2 separate regions of the Homo sapiens genome follow, and region 1 is linked to region 2. Evidence: fine-mapped QTL for protein levels in blood plasma. A gene starts in region 2. The other region holds a variant in brackets. All regions are shown on one strand. Distances are from middle to middle. Region 1 overlaps OAF (out at first homolog). Region 2 holds the start of OAF (out at first homolog).

Evidence for each region. A credible set is the group of variants that fine-mapping cannot tell apart. PIP is the posterior inclusion probability: the model's chance that the variant is causal. Sun 2018 read protein levels with aptamers (SomaScan).
Region 1: its variant is the best candidate, but not a certain one, in a credible set for the plasma level of the OAF protein (Sun 2018, PIP 0.65).

Annotation. Positions count from the first base shown.
Region 1 is chr11:120,219,750-120,230,499 of GRCh38, reverse strand. It overlaps OAF (out at first homolog), which reads right to left. Exons shown (of 4, transcript NM_178507.4): 2 at 4,705-4,839; 3 at 3,504-3,684; 4 at 166-1,632. The coding sequence ends at 1,358. Among named protein-coding and RNA genes, the nearest start is that of OAF, 14 kb to the right of the region's middle. RefSeq lists an enhancer at 9,291-9,790. The variant G/A (reference allele first, on the strand shown) is at 2,880.
Region 2 is chr11:120,200,831-120,211,499 of GRCh38, reverse strand. OAF (out at first homolog) reads right to left here and starts at 468. Exons shown (of 4, transcript NM_178507.4): 1 at 1-468. The coding sequence starts at 220. RefSeq lists silencers at 151-260, 351-400, 581-840 and an enhancer at 1,174-1,715.

The DNA.
Region 1 (10,750 bases), 19 kb before region 2:
TGTTGAAAGATACTTTGGAAGTGAAGAGCCTTCCAGATGTCTGATTTCATTGAGTCAGGCTTATAGCTGCAGGAATGTCTGCTTTTTTCACTAATAGTAATGATACTAAGAATGGCTAACAGCACTATGTGCTAGATGCTTGACATGCAAGAATTCACTTCGGTCTCTTAAGTAAGCTCATTTTATAGCTAAGGGAGTGGAGGCACAGAGAGGTCAAGCAACTTGACCCATGGCTGCACAGCAGGTAAGTAGCCGAGCCCAGATCTGAAGCGGGGTTCCAATCTCCACCCCATCTCTTGCCTTCGCGCTGGCTATTTCTGACTGGCTTACTACGGTTGCAGCTATGTCTGTCTCATTGTCTTGGGTGCAGAAGTTTTATCTCATCCTTCCCTAGTAACATCTTCCTTCTCCTCCTTCCTTCCTCAAATGGCTGAGCACACAGTAGGTGCTTTCGAAGTTCTTGTTCCAAGATAGGCCACTGCTAGGGTGTGGGGACACTTTCTGACATCAGGTGGCAGCATTGGCCAAAAGTTTTCTCCAAACTCTGGGTCTCATTAGTCAAGTAAAAACTTAAAACGTTTATTTCTGGTAGAAATGATAAATACTTTGCACTAAAAATCTGGAATTCAAGTTTTCCTCGTACTTCATGCTCCCTCCCTGCCCCAGAACCTTACAAAAATATTTCTGTGTAGAGAGGGAAAGAGCTGGTGCCTGCTCTGGAGGCAACGTCCAGGTCCGGGAAAGGCACTCGTGGTCTGTGATCTGTCTCAGTGATGGGAGGTCTCCACTCGCCCCACAGGCAGCCTCGGGGCCAGAGATGAGAATATGCTGTAATCCAGTACAGGGGCTGCGTCGTGGGTCCCCAACAGCTCCTTCTTTGGGGATAGTGAGCCCCTTGTTGGGGAGTAGGAAGGGACTGAGGGGCCAGCTCCTTCCAGATGTGTGCATGGGGAAGGGAGTTGTGTCTGGGGAGGTGGGTGTCCAGGTATAGACTCCTTTTAGGGTCTAAACGTTCAAGGAGTTCAACAGAACAACCAGAGGCCATCATGTTTTGGCAGCTTGCAAGTGAACACTCCAGGGGAGATGCAGGAGGGAGGGGTGTAGATCTGGGGAGCCCTTCTCTCCCTCTCTGCCCGCAAGGAAGGCACAGGGTGGGAATGGGGGTGCCTTCATGAGACCCCCTGCCATGCCACACCCCCTTCACAGTCATGTGAGATGGGGCCAGAGGGGCCCAGGCTCTAGGGCCAGGGGAGTGGGGAGGGAGGGAAATAAGGCCTCAGGTGGGGGTTGCCACCCCCTCTAGTGGCTGGTGAAGAGCAGTGGGCCCAGAGCAGCCACCCGCCAGGTTGCTCCCACCCTAGCCTGGGTAGGGATCCTCATCCCAGAGACACAGCTGCCTCTGGGGCACGTAGAAGTCGAAGCTGTAGCTCTTCTGGCAGCTGCGGATGCCACACTTGTAGGGCGTGGGCCGGTCGCGGCTGTGGCAGTACTTGAGCATGCAGGGGTACCAGGCCAGGCTCAGGCCATAGCGGCAGACGCAGGGCTTCCCGTGGTCCCCCACCTGCCTGCAGCGAGGCAGCTCCGCCTGCTCTGAGGCCTTGGGCAGAGCCTCGAACACAGAACTGTCCACACCTGGGGGAGAGAGGCAAGGATCAGGGAGGGAGGGAGGGAGGGAGGGAAGGAGCTCCCCTAGTCAGAGGCCGCTGCCATTCCCCACTTGGTCTCCTCTGTCATCCCACAGGCATTTACAGACACCTCCATTTCCAAGCTTGCCATGGGACACAGAGGTAAGACCTGGTTACTAGGCTCCTCCTTGCTGGGCTCGTGGGAGAAACAGATTAAATAGGAATCACCCTCCTCTATGGCATCAACTGTGTGCTACGGGCTCTACTTACAGTACCTCCATCAGTCACCCCATGGGCTAAGTATCGTCATCCCTGTTTTAGTGATGAGAACATCGACCCAGAGTTTAATGATCTGGCCAAGGTTTCAAGGCCTCCACTAGACCACACTGCCACCCAATGCTTTAAAAAATCACCATACCGGAGTGTGCTGAGATAGAGGCGTGGGGAGACAAGGTTGGAAGTCAAGGAAGGCTTCTTAAAAAAGGTGACATCTGGCCGGGCACAGTGGCTCATGCCTGTAATCCCACTTTAGGAGTCTGAGGCAGGTGGATCACCTGAGGCCAGGAGTTTGAGACCAGCCTGGCCAACACGGTGAAACCTTGTTTCTACTAAAAGCACAAAAATTAGCTGGGCACAGTGGCGGGCACCTATAATCTCAGCTATCCTGGAGGCTGAGGCAGGAGAATTGCTGGAACCCGGGTGGCGGAGGTTGCAGTGAGCCGAGATCGTGCCATTGCACTCCAGCCTGGGGGACAACAGTGAGACTTTATCTCAAAAAAAAAAAAGTGACATCTGAGTAGGGCTAGGCAGAGAAGGGCCAGCAAAGCACACCCACAGTGGGGCAGGTCAGGTCAGGGTGGCCAGGGCTTGGATCAAATGGGAAAGTGTGCATATTGGGGCGCTGGAGGAGACGGAAGGTACCGGCCTGATTAGGCTCAGGGGCTGTATGGGAGGGGCCAGCTTCTGGAGGACACTTATGTCAAGCTTGCGGCATAGTCTGGGGTGCAGGCCATGGGGGAGGGTGTATGTGTGTGGGGGGCAAGACCACAGCTTGGTTGGGTATTTCTAAATCTGGGCCTGCCCTGGGAGGAGCAGGCATTTCACCAGTGCTCAGTTGGCTGGCAGAAGGCACAGGGGCTCAGAGTTGGAATGGCGCCATTTCCCTCTCCCCTCCACACAGGGGACCTGAGGGCGGTCCTGGAAAAGGTACCCAGAGAGGGGTCAGCGCTGAAGTCACAGAGGTCAGGAAGGCAG[G/A]GACCATGCAGTATGGAGAGGAGCTTCCAAGGATCTTGGGGCAGAGATGCTGGCACCAGGGAGGGCCTGAAGCTGATATCTGAGAGGTGTCAGTGGAGGGGGGCAGGGTGTCCTTGTGCCCCACACCCATGACAGAAGGCCCCATCTCTGTGTCCTCACTAAGGGCAGGGACAAGGGGAAGTACCTGGGAATCTCCCTCCACAGGGCCTAGCAGAGTCTGTGTGCCCTGCCTGGAGCAGGGCCCTTTCCTCTGGCTGAATCTTCTCGCTGAATAATCACACAGGCTCCATTTCCTCCAGGAAGCCTTCCCAGACCAACTGTAGCCTGGTTTGGGGGTCCCTCCCTGAACGCCTGTAGCTATCATGGTATTCTATCACACTTAACTCTGTGCAGATCTACCCTGCTGGGGGACAGGAACTGAGTGTCTACATCTCTGATTCCTGCGCCAGTACATCTCTGTAGGTGTTCAGTAAATGTCTCCTGAACAAAGGAAAGGCTAATGATGAGACTTGGCTAATGATGAGACTCAACTAATGATGCCCCTGCCCTCCTCCACTGCTCTGTGCTGTCTCCCTGTCCCCTTCCCTCCGCCCAGCAGCGGGCAGTGCCCAGCTCCCAGCTGACCTTGCTCCAGCCAGAACCGGACATCCTCCTGGCGGGTGTAGATGGCATCCACGGCCTCGGCACACACGTTGTGGAGATGGGGGCTCAGCAGGGCCCCCTGGCTGAAGTTGACAGCGACATCCATGTGCAGATGCTCCAGACCCCGAACCTCCTCCGCCTGCCGCACTGCCCGGGGATTTTTCTGTGTGTGGGAGAGAAGTCACTCCTACCTGGCTTCAGAATGCTCCCTGTCCATCTTCCCCTGACCCTCCAGAGTCAGGCGAGCCCAAGCTGACTGCCTTTAGAACGCTGGGGCCATCTGCAGGGTGGCAGCCCCACCCCTCTCCAACTGGCAGTGAAGCTGATGCCTAGAGTACAGTCGAGCCTTTTCAGCCTCTATCCAGAATGGATGCTTCCCAAACTATGTGCTGGCCACTGGGCTGACCTCTGGGGCTTGATGGAGAATGCTGAGGTGTGGATGGGAGGTGGAGGTGGGTGGGCCAGGCAAGCTGTGCCAGGGCATATGACCTCTGGAATCACGTACTTTCCAACATCCAGGGAACCAAGTCCCTTTGGGAAAGCAGGCAAAGCGCAGGGGCGAGGAGGCCCCCAGGGCAGGCTCTGCTGGGCAGGCCAGGGAACTCAGATGAGGCTGGGGCAAGGCCCTGGGTCTAAGAAGACAGCAGGAGCAGGCCGGCAGCTTTGAGGGTCTTGAACACTTCACATATGTTTGCTCACTGAATTCCCCCATAACCCAGTTTCAGTGAGAAAATTGTGGCTTTGAAGGTAACTTGTCCAATGTCACCCAACTAATGAGTGACGGAGGAGATGTGATGTCTGATCTGACCTCAGAGCCCAAGCCCCTAGCCTGTCACACACGGGGAGGTGCTGGAACCAGATGGGAGAAATCTGAGAGTTGGGGTTCAGTTAGTGATCTGCAGCTCTAGGGTCAGGTTTGGCCTGGGGCAAAATCAGGGGCTCAGGACTCTAGGGTGAATGGGGTACCAGGGATGAGGGCAGGTCAAGGGCAGTGGGTCCAGGAACAGCGTGAAGATGAGGAGCTGGGTGGGAGGCTAAGGTTGGGGAATCAGAGCTTAGAGCTAGGCTGGCTGCAGGGGTCGGGTCTGCAGGTCAGGATCTGGGCCGGGTCTGCGGGATGGGATCTGGGCCGGGTCTGCTGCGGGTCAGGACCTGGGCCAGGCAGGCCTGGTGGGGCACTTACCTGCCGGAGCTTGGCCATGGCCTCACTGGGGATGATCTCATTGTGCTGCAGCTGGGTGACAAAGCAGAGGGCCTGGAACTGACTCTGCCCCTTCTCCAGCTCCCCCAGGATCAGGGCCCGGAAGACCTTCACATCCTGAAGAAGGGCAGGAGGATGGGAACGGCTGGAGGGTGTGGGACCTTCCCACTGGCCCACCGGGTGCTCAGCTTGGCCCCTGAACAGGATGCCTGGACACTGCCGGGCAACAGACACCTCCCTCCTGCTGGTCTAGGAATTTTTATCTTTTCCGTTTAAACCCGTGACTTGAAAGAAAGAACACACCCCAGATGTTCCAAAGATCCTGGAAAACTGACAAAGTGAACCACTAGAGTTTTTCCCAGCTGATGATTCCTCTCGGCAGAACCCCTTAACGTCACCCTGATCAGGGTGGGTCAGGGCCTCTACAGGCACCTGATCAGGGCATCATGGAGGAGGGCTGGACTTTTCCAGTACCGATTCCAGAGTTCCTCTTTTTTTTTTTTCTTTGTAGTTGTAATGGCTAGAAATCTTAGACATTCTTATTCAGTAGATCTGGGGAGAGGTCTCAAGATGCCCTTGGTGCTTCTGATTGGCCAGGCTCCTGGCCACCGACCACTGAGTGAGTGGAGTGGTGGGGCCGGGACGGGGTGAGGGCAGAGTGGGAGGCTGGCTGCAGCTGTTGCAGCCTTCCGGCCTGAGGGAGCTAGGATGCCTCGCCTCTTCCTTTCCCTCCCCACTTCCCCTTTCCCCCATGGGGTCGCTAATGGCATTGCCGCAGTCCAAGGGCTCCTTCCTGTTACTGACTCACTGTGTGAATGGGGGGTCTGCAGCAGGATGGAGGGAGTAGAGCTGTAGGGTGGGCTGGGGCCCCCTTCCCTATCCGGCTGCTGGAGCCCTGTGCTCTGCTCACCTGTACCGCTCACCACATGAGAAGTGGCCCCTTGCCTTCTTACCCATCTCTGTGACTTGATTAACTCTGCTCCCAGTGAGAAGTTAGTGGGTCCCAGTCAGAAGTGGTCTACATCTGTCAAGGCCCCTCCTGTGGTGGAGGCACCCTGACCTCAGTGACCATTCTCTGCTGGGAACCCCTATGGCTCTGCACTGAGACTTAGAATGACAGCTCTGTGGATCATCTATTAATGCCCGGGCCCCAGCTCCCCCCACCACACAGTCACTGAGTACTTGCTGTACACCCGCGAGAACAGAAGTGTCTCAGCAACAGGCTCTGAGTGGCCCCCTTGGAGTCCAATACATGCGGCAAGGGACTCACAGCTCCGCCCCGAAGCTGCAATGTATTAGTGAGTCCTCCAGGCTTTCCCCTAATTTCTCTGATGTGTAAAATGGGGATGATCCCAGTTATGTGACAGGGTTGTGGTGAGGACTAAGTAAGTTATCTGAAGATTCTCACATGGGGTCAGCGCTAGCTGGGATTACTCTTGTAGGTGACCAGCAAGCATCGTAGGTGGTCTGCAACAAACGAGTGCATGTCATCTCATAAATGCCCATGTATTTCTGCAGTCCTTTAACTCTACAGAGTTTCTCTTACTTGCCATTATTGTAAATCATCTCTGGAACGATGAGGTATGGAAGTATAGGGGGAGGTTTTCCAGAAAGGGAAACTGAGGCTCAGCTGTTGAGGAAGGTTCCATTAGGTTCCTTATGATCCCAGAGATTTGTGAAGAAGGTGATCAGAGCTCAGCCAACCCCTGCTTCCTCTCAACAGGAAATCCCTTCTTGGTCATGGTGCTGCAATCTCCTTGTCCTGCCAGCCTGGGCTATCTGATCTTCCCCTCACTCAGGTCGGCTGAGGAGAGATGGGAGGCTGCTCTGCCTGTAGCATATTCCATTCTGGGCTCAATTCCTGCCAGGTGAGACTTGATACCAGACTTCCCCTGCTAGAGCTTGAGCCAGGCCATGTCCCTGGCAGGATCCCCCAGGAAGGATCCAAAAACCACTTCCCTGGTATTTTCAGCTCTGACTCTTTGGAGAGAAGCCTATCTGGATATTCACAGCATCTTCTCCAATACCGCAGGTGCAGGAAATATCCGGAAGTCTCAGGGCTGCTCAGGGGTCTCTTTGCTTGGTGACATCACCTGACTACCGTTGGCAAAAGAAGGTATTTGAACTTTCAGACCAGACTAGAGGATGAAAGAAATCTATTTGAGCTTTTTTCCTGCTTCTATATTAATAATGTCATCAATGACAATAACAAAATGCTGTCAAAATGGGAACTGACAGGGGGTGCAGGAAGGGAATGATAATTTCTCACTGAGAGGATTTCCTCTGTATCTCCTATTTGTATAGGAAAAAGAGTTACTGAAATTTGTAACTAGAAGAGAAAAAACATTGTTTCCATGGGTCAAAAGGATGTATGATCCTTTTTAAAATCCTTACAACAGGCGGTAGGAGCTATGATTGTTACCGAGCTTGGATTAGGTAACCTGTTCAACGTCATGGACTAAGAGGAAACATAGCCAGGATCTTAATCCAGACAGTCTGACTTCAAAGCCTGAGCTCTCTTAACCAGAATCCATAATTGCCTCCTGGATCAGCTAGTCTCATCTCCTTGATGCTCAGCTAAAGAAGCTGGAACTCGGGCACACAGAGGTTGTGCGGTCTGCCCTTGATGCCTGAGCTGGCCAGCAGCAGAGGTGGGATTAGGACCCGCTCCCCATCATGCCCATCTGGCGGCAGCCTGCCTTAAGTCAGCACACCTGCCTTCGAATGTGGCGGCTCTGGCTCGTGGTTCCTGCAACTACCAAACAGCATGACACAAATAAGAGAAGAGGAGGCAGGAATACCCTTCTAACCCGCCTGCCTGCCCTGCCAGGACTTCTTTTTTTGTTTTTTGTTTTGTTTTGTTTTTTGAGACAGAGTCTCACTCTGTCACCAGGGTGGAGTGCAATGGCGCGATCTCGGCTCACTGCAACCTCCACCTACCGGGTTCAAGCGATTCTCCTGCCTCAGCCTCCTGAGTAGCTGGGACTACAGGCATGGGCCACCACACCCAGCTAATTTTTGTATTTTTAGTAGAGACAGGGTTTCTCCATGTTGGCCAGGATGGTCTTGATCTCCTAAGCTTGTGATCTGCCTGCCTCGGCCTCCCAAAGTGTTGGGATTACAGGCGTGAGCCACTGCACCCGGCCTCTGCCAGGACTTTTTAAACTACAAATTCTCCGGTCTCTCCTTTGTGTGCATGGTTGTTTTTTTTTTTTTCTTTTGGAGACCGAGTCTTATTCCGTCACCCAGGCTGGAGTGCAGTGGTGCAATCTCGGCTCACTGCAACTTCCGCCTCCCAGGCTCAAGCAATTCTCCGGCCTCAGCCTCTGGAGTAGCTGGGATTACAGGCATGTGCCACCATGCCCGGCTAATTTTTGTATTTTGTAAAGACTGGGTTTCACCAGGTTGCCCAGGCTGGTATCGAACTCCTGACCTCAGGTGATCCGCCTGCCTTGGCCTCCCAAAGTGCTGGGATTACAGGTGTGAGCCACTGCGCCCGGCCCTTTCGTCCTATTTCCCCAGAAAAGCACATTCCACTTGCTGATCCCTGAGAAGGAGTGGGCAGCCCTACTTTCTGGGTCTATTTGGTAACAGGACTCCATCATCCTGACCAGTGTCCCTCCCGCTTTCCACTCCTTGCACCTCAGACTCCCTGGCAAGGTTCTGGGGCCCCCTCTTCTTCCAACCTTCACAGGGAAGGGTGAAAGTCCCCTCAGATGCTAAGCCCAGGCCAGATGGAAGCCTGACTCCCAGCCTTCCTCCTTGCCCAGGAATCTGTTGGGATGACGTACTTCATGTGGCCTAACACCTAAAGCAGATGCTTAGCTGGGGAAGAGCCTACAACAGGGACTGCAGGCAGGCTCCTGAGGCTCAGGACCCAGGATAGGGTCCCCAAGACGGGAGGTTGTTATAAGGCTCCTTCTCCCACAAGCTTCCAGGAATCTCCAGCCTACCTGGAAGAACTGGAGCATACTACATCCAGGGCCAGGATCTGGGCCACGCAGAGGGTGTGGCAAGTACCCTGGGGAAATAGTGTTTGCTAGGGTCCTCGTCTGTAGTTTTAAGTAAGGAGTAGGTAGGCTCTAGGATAGCACAGAATTTAAGAACAAAGGCTCTGGAGCCAGTGTTACCCATGTTCAGATCCTGGCTTTGCCTCTGCTGGCCACATAACCTTGAAGGGATTTACTTAACCTCTCTGTACCATAGTTTCCACATTGGCAAGCTGAATAAAATGATAGTATCTACCTCAAGGGACTGTTGCAGGGAATAAATGAGTGAAAGGTTTCAGAACACAGTGGGCTGAACTTTCAGTTTCTCTCTTGTGGCTGCAATTCCTGGCTCTATGTCTGCCTTGCTCCACCTGAAATCTACTCCACTCCTGAAGACCCAGGAGTTGAGATTGTTCTCTTCTAGATGTACCTATGGCCTAGACAGGTCAGGTGACTCCTCTGGGGCTTGCAAGTAATCAGCCAATCAGTGGGAGAGCACTGATTAGCAGGACATGGGGCAGGGCCTTCACAAACACCTGGGCAGGGGAGTGGCCTTGGCCAAGACACAGATTCCTGTTTTCCAGGGGATGGTGGAGGAGGCTGACTTCTGACAACTCAAGTCAGCAAACAATAGGCCTAGGATTGAGGTTTACTCCAAGTGCAATGGAGGTAAAGGGTGGATGAGGGAGTGCTCGTTGTCCCCTTAAGGTTGGGGCTGGGGGTGGCATGAGGGAGGGAAGACTTCGCACAGTGAGGGACTCCTCATTGGCCCTTGACAGTTAAAGGATGGAGGGCTTTCCAGCAATGAGGCATTTACAGAAGACAGCCAGGCATGAGTCTCCCAGTGCCCCCACCCAATCATCCCTCCATGCTACTATCACCCGAGTGGCCGAATGCCCTTCAAGGGCTCCCTTTGTCCTCACCAGAAAGCCTAACCCCAGAGCCTGGCATCCCAGGTCCCTGCTCACAGCAACTGTTGCACTTCCCATGCACTGAACCGGAGAGCTTGTAGTTCCCAGAATGAGCGATGCTGTGTCACCCCTAGGCCTTTCTGTGAGCAGGTTCTTCTGCCGGGATGCCCTGTGCTCAGCTGTCTCAGCTGTGCCTTGTGTGCAGGGCACAGCTCACAAACGACCCTCCTCTGACTGCCCTCCCAGTGCTGCCCTCACCAGCCCTTCTGCAGAGTTGGCCAATCCCAGTCGCTGCCTCTAGAGCACAAATCCCACTGTTTACTCCCACTGTGTTTTTGCTGACCTCTTTACTTGTCTTTCTTTCCAGACTCAACTTCTTGAGCCAGGAAAAGTGGCTTGCTTGAAGTGCATCCCTGCCCCCTGGAACACAGCAGGTGCTCAATAAACATCTGATAAGGAATACATGAAGGGTGAATGAACAACAGCATGGAAGAGTTCTCTGAGAAAAGCGGTGGGAATGTACTAGGGGAGGAGGGGAAGGGTCGTGAGTGCTGATGAGGCTGGCAAGGGGTCAGGACACAAGCAGGACGCAGGGTCTGAACCAGGCTGAGGAGTGGGAGGCTTCCTCTTGTGCCTCTCTGGAAGTCACTGGTGGGTTTGAGCCTGGGGTGACATGAGGGACCTGTGGTTTGGAGCTGAATCAGACTCTGCCTGAGGTTGTGAGAGTGCCTTGGATCTCAGTGCCCCAGTCAGATGGTCTCTGTCCTCATGGAGCACCTTCTGCCCAGGCAGTTAGTCATCCAAGCCCTCTGTGACCTGCCTCTGGCTCAAGAGCAGCGACTCTAGCCTATTCACATGGTGACCCTGGGGTCTGTCGCACAGCTGGGGCTCAATGCTTAGTAGCTGGAGGAACGAATGAATGCTCTAGGGCCTCCATCAACCCACTGGCCTCCAATGTGCAGACACTCTTTCTTCTCGGCCTTGCCTGCAGCTGGGCTCCTGCAGGCTGATAGTGCTACAGCTGCTATTTTGGCATCTAGAAGGTTTAGGGGATCATCTAGTTCATGGCCCAGTGAGGTTCCAGCAGGGAAGTAACCTTCATGAGTCACACAGTGGCAGAGCCAGGGC
Region 2 (10,669 bases):
CGGCGGTGAAGGAGACGAGGGTGCCGTCGGGCTTGCGCAGCTCGAGGCTGATGCTGTCCGCGTCGCTGTCCGCCTGCAGGCTCTCCTCGGTCACCTGGCCGTCCGGCAGCCGCACGCGGACCCGCAGCTCGGCCGGCGCACCCGTTCCCAGCAGCGGCGCGAGCAGCGGCAGCAGCAGCAGCAGCGCAGGGCGCGCCAGGGGTACCCCGGGAAGGCGCATCCCCGGGGGCCGCTGCCGTCCGCGGCCCCGGCGCGCCGCGTGGGGGCGGGGAGAGGCGCAGGCAAACTTCGCCCAAAGTTGGGGGCTAGTTCGGGGCGCCCGGGAGCCGCTCCGCCGGGGGCCTTGGCCGCGGGGTCGCCCGCGAGGTGGCGCGGACGCACGTGGGTAGCGCTCAGCAGGGCGCCCCCGGCGGCCCCGAGGCGGAGACGGCGCTGCCCCGGCCCGGCTCCGCGGCCCCGGGCTCCAGCGCTGCGAGCCTGTGTTTTGCACTTTTCATTCAATCCCACCCCCCGTCACTTCCTTCAGAAAACAGAAACCACCAGGACCCGCCTTAAAGAGACCGCGCACCTCGCGGCCCTTAAAGGGCCCGCGGCTGCTCTCCGCACTTCGGCGTTGGCCGGGCAGGGGGCGGGGAGAGGGGGCAGCGGCTCCGCGGCTTTGTGCGAGCGGCCTCCTCGACCTCCCTCCCGCCCGGCCGCGCGGAGTCAGCGACCCAGGCGGAGTCAGAAGTTTGCTCTCCCGGGGCAAATCCCTTCCTTCCAGCAGGGGCAGGACGGGTGACTCTTCCCCCGCCCTGCACCGCCACCCCCCCCCCCCGCTTTTTTTTTTTTGGCTTGCTTTTGTGCCACGTGGATGAAATAATCGGGCTTGGATTTTTAGGGGTTTTGTTTGGTCTTTCAGTTTCTCTGACAGCGAATTTCTAAAAAGCTTCTGCAAAATCAGACCTCGCTTTGCACTCTGCCTTTTCCCTGCCCCACACTGGGAGGGTGGATCGGGGGTTCTCGCCCAGCTTTGCCACGGCCAGGTGTTAGACCTTGATGGGTCAGGTCACCCACTGGGACGCGGCCCTCAGGTTTTGTGAGCCCCTGTGCCTCTTTCCTTTTCAGTCCTGCCTCCCGTGCTTCCCGCATTCACGGCCTTTCCTCAGTCCTGCCCACCACCGCAGACCCGGTTCTTTCTCTCTATTATAGACTATGAAAATCCAGGGAAATGTTGGATTCCAGGTCACTTGGGAGAATTTCCAGGGACTCGGGACGCTGGCGCTCCACGACAGTGGCTTTCCCACAAGCCACAAGGAAACATGCGTGCCCTGCGGTGCACCCCAACAATAAGAAGGGTGAAGACCAGGAGATCTGGATTGCTGCCTCCTCTGATTAGTTGTGGAATTTAGGCACGTTTTAAAAATTCTTTGGGCTTAAGTGTCCCCGTGTGTATCGTGGAAGCTGCTCAGACCTACACTGTCCTGCCAGTCCCAGGCAAGGGAAAAAGCCCCACGAAGATGCTCAAAACCAATTGTTCCCTGACTTCCATTTTCACTTCTGTTGGGACCTTGATTACTGATGGGTGAAAACTCCCTTCTCTGCAGCCTCCTTCCCTTCTAGGGCTTCCCCAGCACAGGGCCATGTGAACTGCAGGGTCCGGCTAGAATCGGCCTCTTGCTATCATCCAGGGGCCCTTCCCGCTACCCGCTCTCTGCTGCCTAGATTTAGGACTGAAGGGAATTTAAGAGACTACCAAGTCAGCCTTTTCCAAATTTGCCTTTCCTGAAGAATCACCTGGATGCTTGTTAGAAAATAGATTCCCGAATCCCTAAACCCATGGAATCAGATTCTAGGGAAAAGAACTGAGGATTAGCATTTTTGACAAGGCCCACATGATGCTCGACATAAGTGGTTGACAGCAGGTATTTGGCAGATGTTTAAGCATAGAGCGTCTGGGCCAGACGCGGTGGCTCATGCCTGTAATCCTAGCACTTTGGGAGGCCGAGGCGGGCGGATTGCCTGAGCTCAGGAGTTCGAGACCAACCTGGGCAACAAGGTGAAATCCCGTCTCTACTAAAATACAAAAGAAATTAGCTGGGTGTGGCGGCGTGCGCCTGTAATCCCAGCTACTCGGGAGGCTGGGGTAGGAGAATTGCTTGAACCCAGGAGGCAGAAGTTGCAGCGAGCCAAAATTGCGCCACTGCACTCCAGCCTGGGTGACAGAGGAAGACTCCGTCTCTACAAAACAAAACAAAACAAAACAAAACAAAAACATAGAGCATCTGAAACAAGCAGCATCCTTCCTGGAGAACCTGGCTCCTAAGGAGTTCATCTTCACATCCGGGAGATAAGGCAGGCTGTTAGGGAATAATTGGATTAGCACAAGGATTGCTCCCCTAAGGACTCCCACTCTTAGCTGGCAACCGTTTAGACTAGAGATGCCCAGGGTCTTGAAATTGGCCTCCCGCCTGACAGGATGCTGGATCTCCATGCGGCCTTGAAGCTAGGTCTCCCACATGAGTCAGCCCACACAGTCATTAAGGGCCTCGCCCACATTTCCTAACTTCCCTTGTTTCAGGTCCTGTCCCCATCCGCCACCAGCTCTGCCCTCAGCCATTTCCCAGGCTCTTACCCCTTCTCCTCCCACAACAGCCCAGAAGTGGGCAAAGAAGCCCTGGATGTCAGATTTCTTGTTTAGGTCCCTGAGGTTTGTCTCTGTTCACATTTTGGGTTTGGAAACAAGGATGGAAGACCTCATCTCTTTCCCACCTCTTCCCCATAGTCAACTTCCTTCTCTACTTCAACCACAGATCAAACCAGATTTTTCTTTGAAAGTGATAGGGCATTTGAAATCTCACTCCATTACATAAGCCCTGCCTACCTACATCTCTATGCCTTGCTATTGATTTCACCTGACCACCTCTTCAAGCTCCAGGACAAAACTCAGGTTTCCCAGGAAGACTTTCTCGACTCCCCACCGACCTAGCCCTCTGTTCTGTGCCACTGTCTCCGGCCTCTGGACTCCAACAATAGTCATTATTATAGCAGCTCCTCCCCCATTGTATTTTGATTATGTCCAGGTTCTGTGCCAAGCATTTTACATGGATCATCTTATTTAATTTTCATGGCATCCCTCCAAAGTAGGTTCTATTCTTAGGCTCTTTTTACTGACTAGGAAACCAAAGCTTAGAGAGGTTAGGCAACATACCCAAGGTCACAAAAGCAGTAGAGCCAGCCGGGACTCAAACACAAGTCTGCCCGCCTGACCACAAAGCCCTTGCTTTGAACCACAGTAGCCTCTGCCTGTCGGTAGCCCTCACTTTCTGCCAGTCCCACTCGGGGCTCACATCCTGCGCTATCTTCTCCTGTTATCTAACGGTTTCGCGTGTGGCAATCCTGTATCCCCAGTGAAGCCGTCAGCTAGTTCAAACAGGCCAGCCCCGTGCTGGGAACAGACAGCGTTTCCCTCAAACCATCCGGGCATAGAAGCATCCATTCATCTTAAATGTAAAGGCCGTCAGAGGAAGAGCTCTAACAAGCCTAATTACTCCGACTACAACCAAACAGCCCTCATTGTCAGAGAGTTCTTCATGTCTCATCGCAAGACCTCTGCCACACCATAAACCAATTTCCTTTTTTTTCTCATCTCTAGCCCTTGGAAAGCAGTAGCCAGTAGTGGTTCAGAAAATGGGCATCAGGATCTCAGTCCTGGAGCTCGGCCCCAGTCATGAGCTGTGCGTCAGTGAGCCTGTTTCTTCAACTGTAAAATGGGCGCATACGTTTCTCCCTCACTGGGTTGCTTTGAAAATTAAATGAAACATTGTGCATAAAATATTTCGCAACATGTTTGGCATATAGTACAGATCCAATAAATGGTGGCTGTTATCCTTTAATTCTGTTTATTCTTTCCCATTGTATCACATACTAAATCTCTGATTATACAAGTCTCTCCCTCTCACCCCCTGCCACATGTATACGCGTGCATGTACACATATTCTTTCAGAAACATTTTTTTGGCTGGGCGCGGTGGCTCACACCTGTAATCCCAACACTTTGGGATGCCGAGGCGGGTGGATCACCTGAGGTCAGTAGTTCGAGACCAGCCTGGCCAACATGGCAAAACCCGTCTCTACTAAAATACAAAAATTAGCCGGGTGTGGTGGTGGGCGCCTGTAATCCCAGCTACTCCGGCGACTGAGGCACGAGAATCGCTTGAACCCAGGAGGCAGAGGCTGCAGTGAGCTGAGATCGTGCCACTGCATTCCAGCCTGGGTAACAGAGCGAGTTGGTCTCAAAGAAAAAAATAAATACATAAAAAAGAAATATTTCTTCCTCTCTATCCTCTTTAGGTGTCTAAGTTTTCTGTGTCTTGAGACCTCCGAAACTGAGAAATGGATAGCAGCAAAACCTCGGGAGGCACTTTCCCTTTGCTTTTTGGTCTGAGTGTGCCTTAATTTGGGAGGAAGAGAAACACCAAACCATCTCCCAATCTGTGCCCAAGAAAACAGGTGCTGACAAGACCCTGCAGGAGGTGGAAAGGGAAACTGAACCAATGACCTTTACCGAGAGACAGGGAGAGAACCACCAGGTGCTTGTCTTTGCAAGACTGGAAAGATTTTTTTCTTCCCATGACTTTCTGTGAGTGGCTGTTTGGTTTGGGTTAGGTTACAGCCCCTTTGTCTCTGGGCCTTTGCAGATAGAGTGGAGGATTTGCGATTTGAGTTTGAGGGAGAACCAGGGATGGAGTGAGGGATCCCCTCTGCTTCTCAATGTCAATTGCAAAGCTCCAGACACTTCATTGCCAGCACAGAAGTACAAATTAGCTTTCCGCCATCACACAATTATGCAGTTCCATCCATCAAGGGTGTGGTGGGAAAGTGGATTGGAGAGACAGCTGGTGGGGATACTGAGTGGAAAGGGAAGAGAAGTGGAGATGGCTGGGATAGGCATGGAGAAGCTATTCTTTTCGGGCAGAAAAACCAGGCAGAAGGGAAGTTGTCATGGAGGTGGGCTGGATCCATGACTTTCAGGAAGGAAAAGGAAGCCTGGATGATCAGAGCTGCAAGCCAAGGCAGATCTCAGTCCATTGATTAGTCCATTGATTATGGTAGCTCTTCAGGTGCCTTTTACCCTCTGCCTCTTGCTATAATTATTTCACAGTATTTGTGTTTGAAACCAGAGGCTACAAAAGAACCTAGGCCAGCTGTAAGTGGTGCTGCTCAGATTAGAAGCCTGGCATTCTGAAGCCAGGGCTTGTCTCCTCCTTTGACACGGCACAGAGCTCCATGTTGCCCATTGACTCTTGAAAGTCCCAAACATAGCTGGGCACGATGGCTCACGCCTGTAATCCCAGAACTTTGGGAGGCCGAGGCAGGCAGATCAGGAGGTCAGGAGTACGAGACCAGCCTGGCCAATATGGTGAAACTCCGTTTCTAATAAAAATACAAAAATTAACTGGGCATGGTGGCGTGTGCCTGTAGTCCCAGCTACTCAAGAGGCTGAGGCAGGAGGACTGCTTAAACCTAGGTGACGGAGGTTGTAGTGAGCCAAGATCATGCCACTGCACTCTAGCCTGGGCAATAGAGCAAGACTCTGTCTCAAAACAAACAAACAGAAAAAAGTCCCAAACATAACCTCTTTTCCTCCATGCTAGTTCCTCCATGAGGCCTTCCCTGCTCCCCACCCCCAGACTCATGCATTCACTCGTTCATTCAGTCATCTAGCACGTGAAGAGTGAGTCACTGCACTAGATGCTGTGGGCACAGCAGTGGAACAAGGCAGATGCAACAATTATTTACCCTGAGATGGAACATGCAAGAGAAGCAGGCTATAAAATCATGGCAAAACAAAATATTTTAATTATAATTGTTATAATGGAGAATTAGAGGAGAGTCTAGCCTAGACCAGGAGGCCTTCTTGGAAGGCTTTTCCAGGTGTAGCCTAATCTTAAAAGATGAATCAGCATTGACCAGCAAAGACAATGTTCCAGGCAAAGGAAACAGCTTGTGTACAGGACCTGAGTCTGGTGGGCTTCCCAGAAACATCACCAGGTAGCTAGGGCATGACGGGGGTGAAGAGTTGCTTGAAATCATGCAGTACAGTTTGGCAGGGCCCAAGAAACGCAGGGCCTTGGAGGCAATATTAGCACTGGGCTTGGTTTTGTTTTGTTTTCCTAAGATCAATGGGCAGTCATCGAAAGGTGTTATATAAGGGGTGACATGATCAGACTTGTATTTTAAAAATATTGTGCTCAGGAAATGGATTGTGGCCATGACAAGTAGTGCTGATGAGTGGGGTGGTGGTGGTGGCAGTAGGGGTGTGGAGAGGGGTTGGAATTCAGCAACACGGGGGAGTAGGATTTGATGTTTCTTTGGACTGGGGCAAGTGAGCAGGAGCGGTCAAGGGCAACTCCTGGTTCTGGCTTGCGTAGGCTGTGGCACCATGAATTAAGGTTGGGTAGCTGGGGAGAAGCCCTGGGATTGCCTTTATGGTAGCTCTTCAGGTGCCTTTCACCCTCTGCCTCTTGCTATAATTATTTCACAGCATTTGTGTTTGAAACCAGAGGCTACAAAAGAACCTAGGCCAGCTGTAAGTGGTGCCGCTCAGATTAGAAGCCTGGTGTTCTGAAGCCAGGGCTCGTCTCCTCCTTTGACATGGCACAGAGCTCCATGTCACCGCCTTCACTCACGGTCTTTGTAGGCTGAACCTGGCCCCTCTTTGCGTCCACCTTATGCCCAGCATGGTGCTTTGTATGCAGAAGGTGCTCAATAATGACATCTCTGTAGCCCTGTGTACCTGGCACTGGGCTATGGGAGAGAGAATCTGAGACACAGTCCCTGCCCTCAAGAATCTTGTTGACCATGTGATCCAGGACCTTCCAGAGCAGGCTGGGCCACCTCATTATAATGGAAGACCTCAGGCCCTTTTCAGATGCCAGTATTGCTCCTACCTGGAGACTCAGACATCTGTCCCTGAGAGCATTTTGCCCGTCATGCCCTGGCAAGTCCTTCATCAGGGCACACTCAGGGAGGCTTTAGAGAAGAGAGGTCTTGTTCACTGGTCTGGAGCGTCGCTGCCTTCAGCCACAGAGACCTTAGACTGTACGCCTGCGGCAAGAAGATGGGATCTGGCAGGGTTTGTGTGCCTTGTGTTGATTACATTTTAATGGGTAAACACCCTTTCCTTTATGCAAATCCCCGAGAAAATTTATTACTTTTTTTTTTTTTTTTTTTGAGATGGAGTCTCGCTCTGTCGCCCAGGCTGGAGTGCAGGGGCGCGATCTCAGCTCACTGCAAGCTCTGCCTCCCGGGTTCATGCCATTCTCCTGCCTCAGCCTCCCGAGTAGCTGGGACTACAGGCGCCCGCCACCACGCCCGGCTAATTTTTTGGATTTTTAGTACAGACGGGATTTCACCGTGTTAGCCAGGATGGTCTCGATCTCCTGACCTCGTGATCCACCCGCCTTGGCCTCCCAAAGTGCTGGGATTACAGGCATGAGTCACCGCGCCCGGCCAGAAATTTATTACTTTAAAAAATCAGTTGGATTTTTAGCCTGGTATTTTATTGCTCTTGAAAAATGTGCGTGTTACAGCTTGGGATGGGACATCCTGCTTTTTCATCAGGGGGCTGAGTGTGAACAAAGTTGAGCCTGGACAGGGGCCATTTCTGACCAGAGCCATCAGCTTGTCTCCCTTTTCCTGTCACAGTTGCTATGGGCCCCCTTATCAGAACATCTGGCTTCCATCTGACTGATGGTATCATCAAGGCTTAGGCTAGAGAGTCTAAGAAGGTTCTAGCATTATCCAGGGAGGGAGGCTCAGGGCCTAGTTTCTTATCCAGTGGAAAAGGGAACATTGCCCTCTCCTGAACTGGGGATCTCAGAGCCACCCTCACTATCATGACTTTTTAAAAAAAGATCTTTCATTTTTCCGAACAAATGGAAAGATACTATGTTTATCGAGAAAAATGTGATAAAAATATATACATTTAGTGCATTTCCAATTAACATCCTAATGGAGCTTAAACATTTTTAAAACAGACTTTTTTATTTTTAACCGTTTTAGGAGTCACAGCAAAATCGAGTGGAAAGTACAGCGTTCCCATATACCCTTGGCCCCTATGTATTCATACTCTTCACCATCAGCATCCCTGCCGGAGGGCTATGTTTGTTACAATCAATGAACTTGTAGTGACACTTTGTAATCAACCAAAGTACACAGTGTACATGAGGGTTCCATTCTTGGTTCTGTATATTTGATGGGTTTTGACAAATGTATCCACCATTACAGTATCATACAGAGGGTTTCACTATGCTAAAAATCCCACGTTCCACCTATCCATGCCATTAAAAAGTGCATGTAATCGTGTTAGGCCACTGGAGAGAAAATAAAACCTGATCAATATTGATTTCAGATTATCTTCTGAGCATTGTGGTTTTTATGAAGTTATCGCTGCATGCCCTGTGTTTCCTGTCCTGCTTTTCTTAATATTATTTCCTACATGCATTTCCACATATTGACACAGTCCACACATCATTCTTTTTTTGTTTTTTCGAGACAGAGTCTTGCTCTGTCGCCCAGGCTGGAGTGCAGTGGCACGATCTCAGCTCACTGCAACCTCTGCCTTCTGGATTCAAGCAATTCTCCTGCCTCAGCCTCCTGAGTAGCTGGGATTATAGGCACCTGCCACCATGCCCAGCTATTTTTTGTATTTTTAGTAGAGACGGGGTTTCACCATGTTGGCCAGGCTGGTCTCAAACTCCTGACCTTGTGATCCACCCGCCTCAGCCTCCCAAAGTGCTGGGATTACAGGTGTGAGCCACCATGCCCGGCCCACACATCGTTCTTAATAAAGTTATAGAGCACACCATGGTGTAAAGAGTTGACAGCGTACTCTAATCATTTGTTGGTTATTATTTTTCTACTATACAATCTTGTAGAAAAGATTTAAAAGGAGACTACAAATTGTGATTCTGATGCTTTTTGCAGAGTTTGAATGCTATGCACTTAAACTCTGATTTATGCCTTCAGCCAGGTTCCTCTCTAGCAGCCCCCTGAGACAGAGTGTCCTGTATATCTCTTTTCATGTCTGTGAAGGGAAAAGACCCCATAATGTCCCGAGGGGACTCAATTACTGCTGTACAAACACAGGATCTTAGCTACTTTCAACTAGAAATTTCTTTCTCATGTACAACACAAATGTCCTTGACTTGAATGTAAACTTTCCACCCTTTCCTGAGTGTGAACAGTTTCTCTCACCTGCACATCGTGTGTGCAAATCAAAAGAGTATGATCCATATTAGGAGTTATTTATATGTGATGATATTCTGCAGGAGAATGTCATAGACTTTTCATGAATTCTCATCAAAGTCAAATAGCACAAACCTTTGTGAGGGGTGTTATTCTGACTTCCATTTTATAGACGAGGAAAGAAGAGGATTCATTAATGCTCAGCTTTAAAATTAAAAAAAATCATATTATATGTCTTCTATTTGGAATTTTAAATTACTTCCTCCAAATAACCCACTTATTAAAAACAAAGTGGTGAGAAATCATGTCACGATTCATCATTTGCTTACAGTAAGCCTGGAACTTTGGACTCATTTTCTTACTTAATTCTTATGATAACTCTGGGAAGCAGGAGACCAAAGTGACTTTTAAACCCAAGACTTTGTGTGGTGACTGGGGGCAGGGAGGGGGTGGGGGGCACTGGCCAAGGCCATCAGGGATGAAGGCAGAGGGGTTGGGGATCTGGTTGTCACCACTCACCTGAAACTTCTCTCTTATTTCCTGCAAATAACAGAGTGGAACGTGTGAAAGGGCTGTTGATGGCAACCGGGGAGGACACAGAGCAGGACCCATACCTTGGGAGGAAGTGGGCTTGCAGTTTCCACCCTTCCCAGGCCCCTGATCTTGACATCTTGGCTCTGTTGTTAGCTAGCTGTGTGAAATAGAGCCAATGACAGCCTCCTCCTGACACCGATGAGTCTCTGCTTCCTCCCACGTTAAAGAGGGGATATTAGTACCTACTCCAGTTGGTTATGATGCGGACTAAATGTGATATAGTATACAATTAGGATGGTGCCTATACCAAGTGGAGATTAGTGAAACGTTTTATTTATTTATTTTTGAGATGGAGTCTTGCTCTGTCACCCAGGCTGGTGTGCAGTGGTGCAATCTTGGCTCACTGCAACCTCTGCCTCCCAAGTTCAAGCGATTCTCCTGCCTCAGCCTCCCAAGTAGCTGGGACTACAGGCATGGGACACCATGCCCAGCTAATTTTTGTATTTTTAGTAGAGATGGGTTTCGCCATATTGGGCAGGCTGGTCTCGAACTCCTGACTTCAAGTGATCCGCCCAACTCGGCTTCCCTAAGTGCTGGGATTACAGGTGTGAGTCACTGCGCCCGGCCAAAACTTCTTCTTACCCTCCTTTGCTATCTTTCCTGTCTGATAGCCCTGGAGTGAGTTTGGAGTGTCTATGACACTCTTGGGTCACCTCAGCTCTTCCTGCCACAAGACCCTCAGACCTCTAGCTCCAACCCTGCTGCCCTACCTGCCTCTCAGTGCTCCCCAGAATGGACGAGAAACCCAAGAGCCAAATCCTGGCTTCCTGACCCAGGGATGAAGCCCTAGCAGCCCTTCCTTGGCCCAGGTCCTCTTTCCTGTACCTTTGTTCTGCTCCCTGCTG